Linked DNA regions of Homo sapiens: region 2 is linked to region 1. The links come from fine-mapping of genetic effects on gene expression. Tissue or cell type: esophagus mucosa. Region 1 holds a variant in brackets; the other region holds the start of a gene. All regions are shown on one strand. Distances are between the middles of the regions.

Evidence for each region. PIP is the estimated chance that this variant, and not a neighbour inherited with it, causes the effect.
Region 2: PC starts here. The variant in region 1 is fine-mapped to the expression of PC in esophagus mucosa (GTEx, PIP 0.93).

The regions. Positions count from the first base shown.
Region 1 is chr11:66,904,998-66,907,750 of GRCh38, reverse strand. All of the region lies in intron 3 of PC (pyruvate carboxylase), which reads left to right. Among named protein-coding and RNA genes, the nearest start is that of MIR3163, 28 kb to the left of the region's middle. RefSeq lists an enhancer at 1,970-2,617. The variant C/T (reference allele first, on the strand shown) is at 1,515.
Region 2 is chr11:66,957,321-66,959,928 of GRCh38, reverse strand. PC (pyruvate carboxylase) reads left to right here and starts at 1,546. Exons shown (of 23, transcript NM_001040716.2): 1 at 1,546-1,607. RefSeq lists silencers at 1,109-1,468, 1,789-1,888 and an enhancer at 1,539-1,588.

The DNA of each region.
Region 1 (2,753 bases):
TTGTTGCTCTTCCCTCTGGAACTTGGCAGCTTTCTAGCAGTTAGAAGAGCAGAGGGTAGAAGGATGGGAACAGTCCTTAGAGAACAGGAATCTAGGGGAGGGTTGGACTAGATCATTTCTCAAGAGCTGTGGGGACTGTTCTGGTCAGGCATGGGCAAGCTGAGGGGCAGGAGGTAGGCAAACCCTACTTGACCTGAGAACAGATTTGTTGTTGTTTTGTTTTTGTTTTTGAGTCTCGCTTTGTCATCCAGGCTGGAGTGCGGTGGTATGATCTCGGCTCACTGCAACCCCTGCCTCCCGGGTTCAAGCGATTCTTCTGCCTCAGCCTCCCGAGTAGCTGGGATTACACGTGTGTGCCACCACACCCGGCTAATTTTGTATTTTTCGTAGAGACGGGGTTTCACCATGCTGGCCAGGATGGTCTTGAACTCCTGACCTCAGGTGATCTGCCCGCCTCGGCCTCCCAAAGTGCTGGGATTACAGGCGTGAACCACTGTTCCTGGCCGAGAACAGGTTTTGCCTGAGACCTTGGACAGAAGACCTTGGCCATGGATCCAAGAGCTCTGGGCCAGAACACCCTTGCATGATGGTGACAGTTGAGGGAAAGGCCACATGGTTCCTTGTGTAAATGGCATGGCTGCCAGTGGTCATGGGGAGGCCCTGCTCATAGTTCAGCACCAGCCGGCCCTTCGTGTGCTGTGCTCCAGCTCCCCAGCCGGCTCAGTCCTTCACAAAATGCCCTGGAGTTACAGAACAGAAAGGCCCGGCTTTCCTTTAGGAATCTGGGAAATAGGAGGGCTGAGGTCATGCTCTGTTCAACATGTGAGACCTCCCAGACAGCAGTGCAGGAAAAACATGTTACTACCCGTATTTTGGGAGACCAGACCTCTGGCGTTTGAGTAGGACTCACTGCTCAGATCTAAGGGGAGAGAACATCTCCCATTTTGAAGAAAACCTTTTCCTCAGTTTAGGAGGAGGAGAAACTGATCAGGTTCCAAATGGCCTCTTGTTCTTTAACTGCAAACGGGCCAGGCTCCCTGCCAGGTCATGGGATAACAATCCAAGGAGAGGGGAGAAATGCAGTGTGCATGTGTGTGTACATGGGCATGCTCGTAGGGGGAAAGACTGGGGGGATGGAGGTGACGTGGACATCTGTGTATGCTTCAGCTCTATTTCCCTCTGCTTAGTCCCAAACTGCTCGGGATTAGCAATTGTTAAGAACATGCCTTTCTCCCCACCCCGGGAGTTCTAGGCCAGGGGTGGAGGGATTGAGCACCGTGGCTTTGTTCTCTGTCAGGTGGTGCCTTTCTCTGTGACACCGAGGGAGACCTGCCATCAGGAGGGAGTCTGAGGCCAGGAGACAGTACTTACCGATCAGGATGGATCTTTGGTCTTGTTTGTGTGCTTGGTTTCCTGGCTGGAATGAAATGTCAGTTTCATGAGGACAGGGACCTGTTCTCTCCTGCACAACTTTCTCTCTGATGACCGACAGTGCCTGGCATGTTGTAAAGGCT[C/T]GTTCAGAAGTGACTGAATGAATGAATGCATACTTTTTAGGCGGGGCTGCATATCGTTCCCTTAAACCTCCTGATTCATCTTCCGTTGCTTCCGTGTCAGCTTCTCACTGGGTCATTGTCTGCTTTGGTGCTGCCCTTCCCCACAACTTTGAGAGTTCATGTTACTGCAGGCTCCCCGCCCGCCCACCTCTGCCTGAAACTTCTCTTTTGGGCTCCTGTGCTGTGACATACTAGCAGTATTTGTTTGCCCCTCTTAAGACCATCCCTTCAGTTTCATTCCTGCCTCAGTTTCTCCTCCTCACATTTCTGCTGTTCCACCTCTGCTCCTGTGCTCTTCTCAGGAAAGCAGGTGAGTGGTGATGCCCTGGGCTAAGCTCGCCAGGGCCTGGGCAGCCCAGGCACCCGTGGTTCGGGTGGGGAGGGAGCATGCTGGTGGCCGGAGCTGGGCTTGTGGGCAGCAGCCCTCCCCACCTTGCTGAGGCCAAGCTCTTTCTCATGGCTTTGGCTGTCACTTCTATGCTGATCACCCCCAAATCATTGTGTCTATATTTCTCTATTGGTGCTTCTGACCTTCCAAAATCTGATCCCACCCTGGCAGTCAGACCTTATTTGATGTCAAGGATTATTAATTTGTAGCATGTATTACATCCCTAATATGGACCAGTTCACATGCATTCTCATATTTCATCCTCCCAATGAACATACAAAGTCAAATAATTATTCTTATTTTACAGAGTCTCAGACAACTTAGTTCCTCTAGGTAACCAGATTAATTAGCATTAGGGGGTTGTGATCAGGATTTGAACTGGCTCCACTGGCCCCTGACCCTGAACAGAGTCAGCTTGGAGTCCGCCCTTGGAGACGAGGACAGCCGGTCCTGTTTCTCCCTCTCACCCCAGTGCACTCACACAGCAGGCGTTGGCACCCTTGCTAAGGGCCAGGCCAAGCGTCTCCTCTGTGAGCCTTCACTTAGCTCTCCTAAGCTGCTCGGCCTGCCTCCTCTCCCTTTTCTCTAACAGCAGTGCCTTTGCACACACTATGTGTTTGTTATATGTTGGCTGTGCCAGTCTTGCCTCGTCAGCAGATAGTGATTTTCTTAAAGGCAGAGGCCATGTTTTATATGATCCTCCATCCCTCAAGTGTGTGTTACAGGCAGTTTGTTGCTCAGTAAACACTTGATACCTCTGATGAGGTGAAATCTAATCACAGTCCTTTGCATATGTATTGTGGTTTACAGTT
Region 2 (2,608 bases), 52 kb before region 1:
ATATATATATATATTAATCTGTCTGCTCTCCTTTGAAGGCAGGATTTTGGTTTGTTTGGTCACTCCCTTATCCCCTGGTTGGCACAGACCCCAGTTTACGCAGCGGTGAATGAAAGTAAAAATCTCGGGACCCCCCCCCAGCGCCCCAATTCATGCGAAAGTGAAGATTAAGCCTTGAAGCTGAGTCACTGCAACACCCTCTTCCAAAAGAATAGCTGTTACTAGCATTAGGCATCAGCCATATCCACACGGAAAGGTAAAAACCTCAGGCATTTGGGAAGGGCTGCCCCCACAGATCATTCACAAGTAAATTCTTGCTGGCCTCCCATAAACAAGGACAGGTCAATTGTAGCTTCAGGTCTACAATCTAAGTCTAGCTCCTAAAAATTCCACAATAAGAATGTCATTACAAGCTTATTTTCCCAGGTGCAGAACAAAGTCAAAACTACCTACTCAGAGACATCTGCATAACTGACTCTTCCTTTACTCTCTTTTTCTCTTCAGACATTCATCTCATCTTACGTAGATTTACCGGGCATTAGCTAAAGTCCCATAGGAATGTAACTATTGTCCTAATCGCCTACTTGCCCTTCTTCCTACATGCCTTCCCCTCATTCCCCCTTTAAGGAAATGCATAAATACTAAACCTCCCGAAAACCTCTTCGGAAAAACAACCACGGATGTGTCTGTGGTTCGTGTTTTTCCCGAGCACGCCCTCAAACTGGATTAATAAGCCTCGATGACAGAGACTTATGCCTCAGTCACTTGTTCCACTTGTCAAAGCTTTCCTCTTTGACAAGTGTCTTGGGTCTTGTCAAGTGTCTTGTGTCTCAAACAAGGCTTCCAAACCCCCTAGGTCCTGAGTAGCTTCGCTCTGCAGATGACAAAACCGAGACTCAGAGGTTAAGTTGCTTGCCCAAGGTCACACAGACGTACTGTAGACCCCCATCATCATCTACGCAGCTGTTAAAGGACATAGTCATGTAACCCGTGTGGCACAAGCGCCTTCTCCTTCCTCCTGCCCTTCGCTAACGTTAGCTTTTCCTGCGACCTCTTCTCCGCTAGCCAGCGCGTATCTGCGTCTAGCCGGGATGCCTGAGCCCCAGTGCGAACTGTTGTGCTTGCAGCTTCGGGAGACACGTGCTACTCGGGTGAATGAATCGAACGTCCCCACCCCCGCCGACAGCCAATAACTGCGAGCCACAGCCCGGCCACTTCCGCCTATTGCGGGCGTCGGCTAGGGTCCGGCGGCCCACGTGAGGCTCCGGAGACAAGGGAGTAGGCGGTGGTGCGCCAGGGGCGGGCTCTCCCAGCCTCGCCACTTATCCAGGCGCTCGCCGGGGACGGGAGGGGCGGGGCTGACGTGGGGCGCCAAGGCTTAAACGTGACGGACAGGCGGGCACAGGGAGGAGTCCAGAGCCTAGGGGCGAGGAGTGACGGAGAACACTGCCCAATAACGGGAGGGGTTGGGCTGTCTGGGCCAATAGGAAGTCCGTAAGGCGGGGCCGGGACTGCAGCAAGTTCGGTTGCACGGAGACCGCAGCTGTTCTCTGTCAGTGGAGGCAGCAGCGGTAGAGGCGGCGGCGAGGACTGGCGACGGCGAGGAGGTGAGTGTCCGCCGCGCTCCGCACGGTCCTCTTCCCGCGGCGGGTCGGAGCGGGTGGACGTGCGCCGGCACCGCTGCGAGGGACGCTTATGTAAGGGTCGCGCGCGCAAAGGCGGCGCGGGCTCCGCGAGTGACGGCTGGAGGAGACAGCGACGGGCTGTGCGCGGTGCGCGACGCGACGCAGCGGACGGCGCCCCTCCCCCTCGCGCGGGGGCTCGGCCGGCTGGACCCGCCCCCGGACCCGCCCCCGGCTGCAGCCCCCGAGCGCCCCTCCGCAGCGTCCGCCTGCGGGCTGCCTCATTCTTGCTCTCGGGCCCATTTTGCAGATGGAGAAACTGACTAAAGCGCCTCGCGCGAGGTCCCTGAGGGTTCGAACCCAAGTCTGTCAGGATCGGGAGCCCAAGTTGTCCCCATCGTACTGGATGTGGCTCAGCTCTGCAGGAAGCCGCGGCGTGTAAGGCGAGGGCTTTCCTTGTTCCTTGCTCTCGCACTCCGCCTCCCGTAGGATCCTCTACTTTGTTTCAGACGGGGAAGCTCCAGGCGCCCAGACGCAGTGATTCGCCCAAGGCCGCTCATTCAGGAGGTGGGGCTGGGCTCAGCCCCTTATTTCTCCAGCTTTTAGTAGTTTACAAAGCGCATCAGAGTCGGAAGCCAAGTCCCTAGGTCCCTGGCAACTTTGAGATTCTTTTGTTTTCTTTTCTTTTTTAGACAGGGTCTTGCTGTCACCCACCCAGGCTGGAGTGCAGTGGCGCGATCTCGGCTCACTGCAGTCTCGACCTCCCGGGCTCAAGCGACCCTCCTGCCACAGTCCCCCAGTGCTGGGACTACAGGCGGGCGCCACCACGCCTAGCTAATTTTTGTATTTTTTGGTAGAGACGAGGTTCCGTCATGTTGCCCAGGCTGGTCTCGAACTCCTACGCTCAAGCGAGCGGCCTGCCCTGGCTTCCCAAAGTGCTGAGATTACAGGCGTGCCTCGTCTGAAATTCTAAAAAATCAGATTGT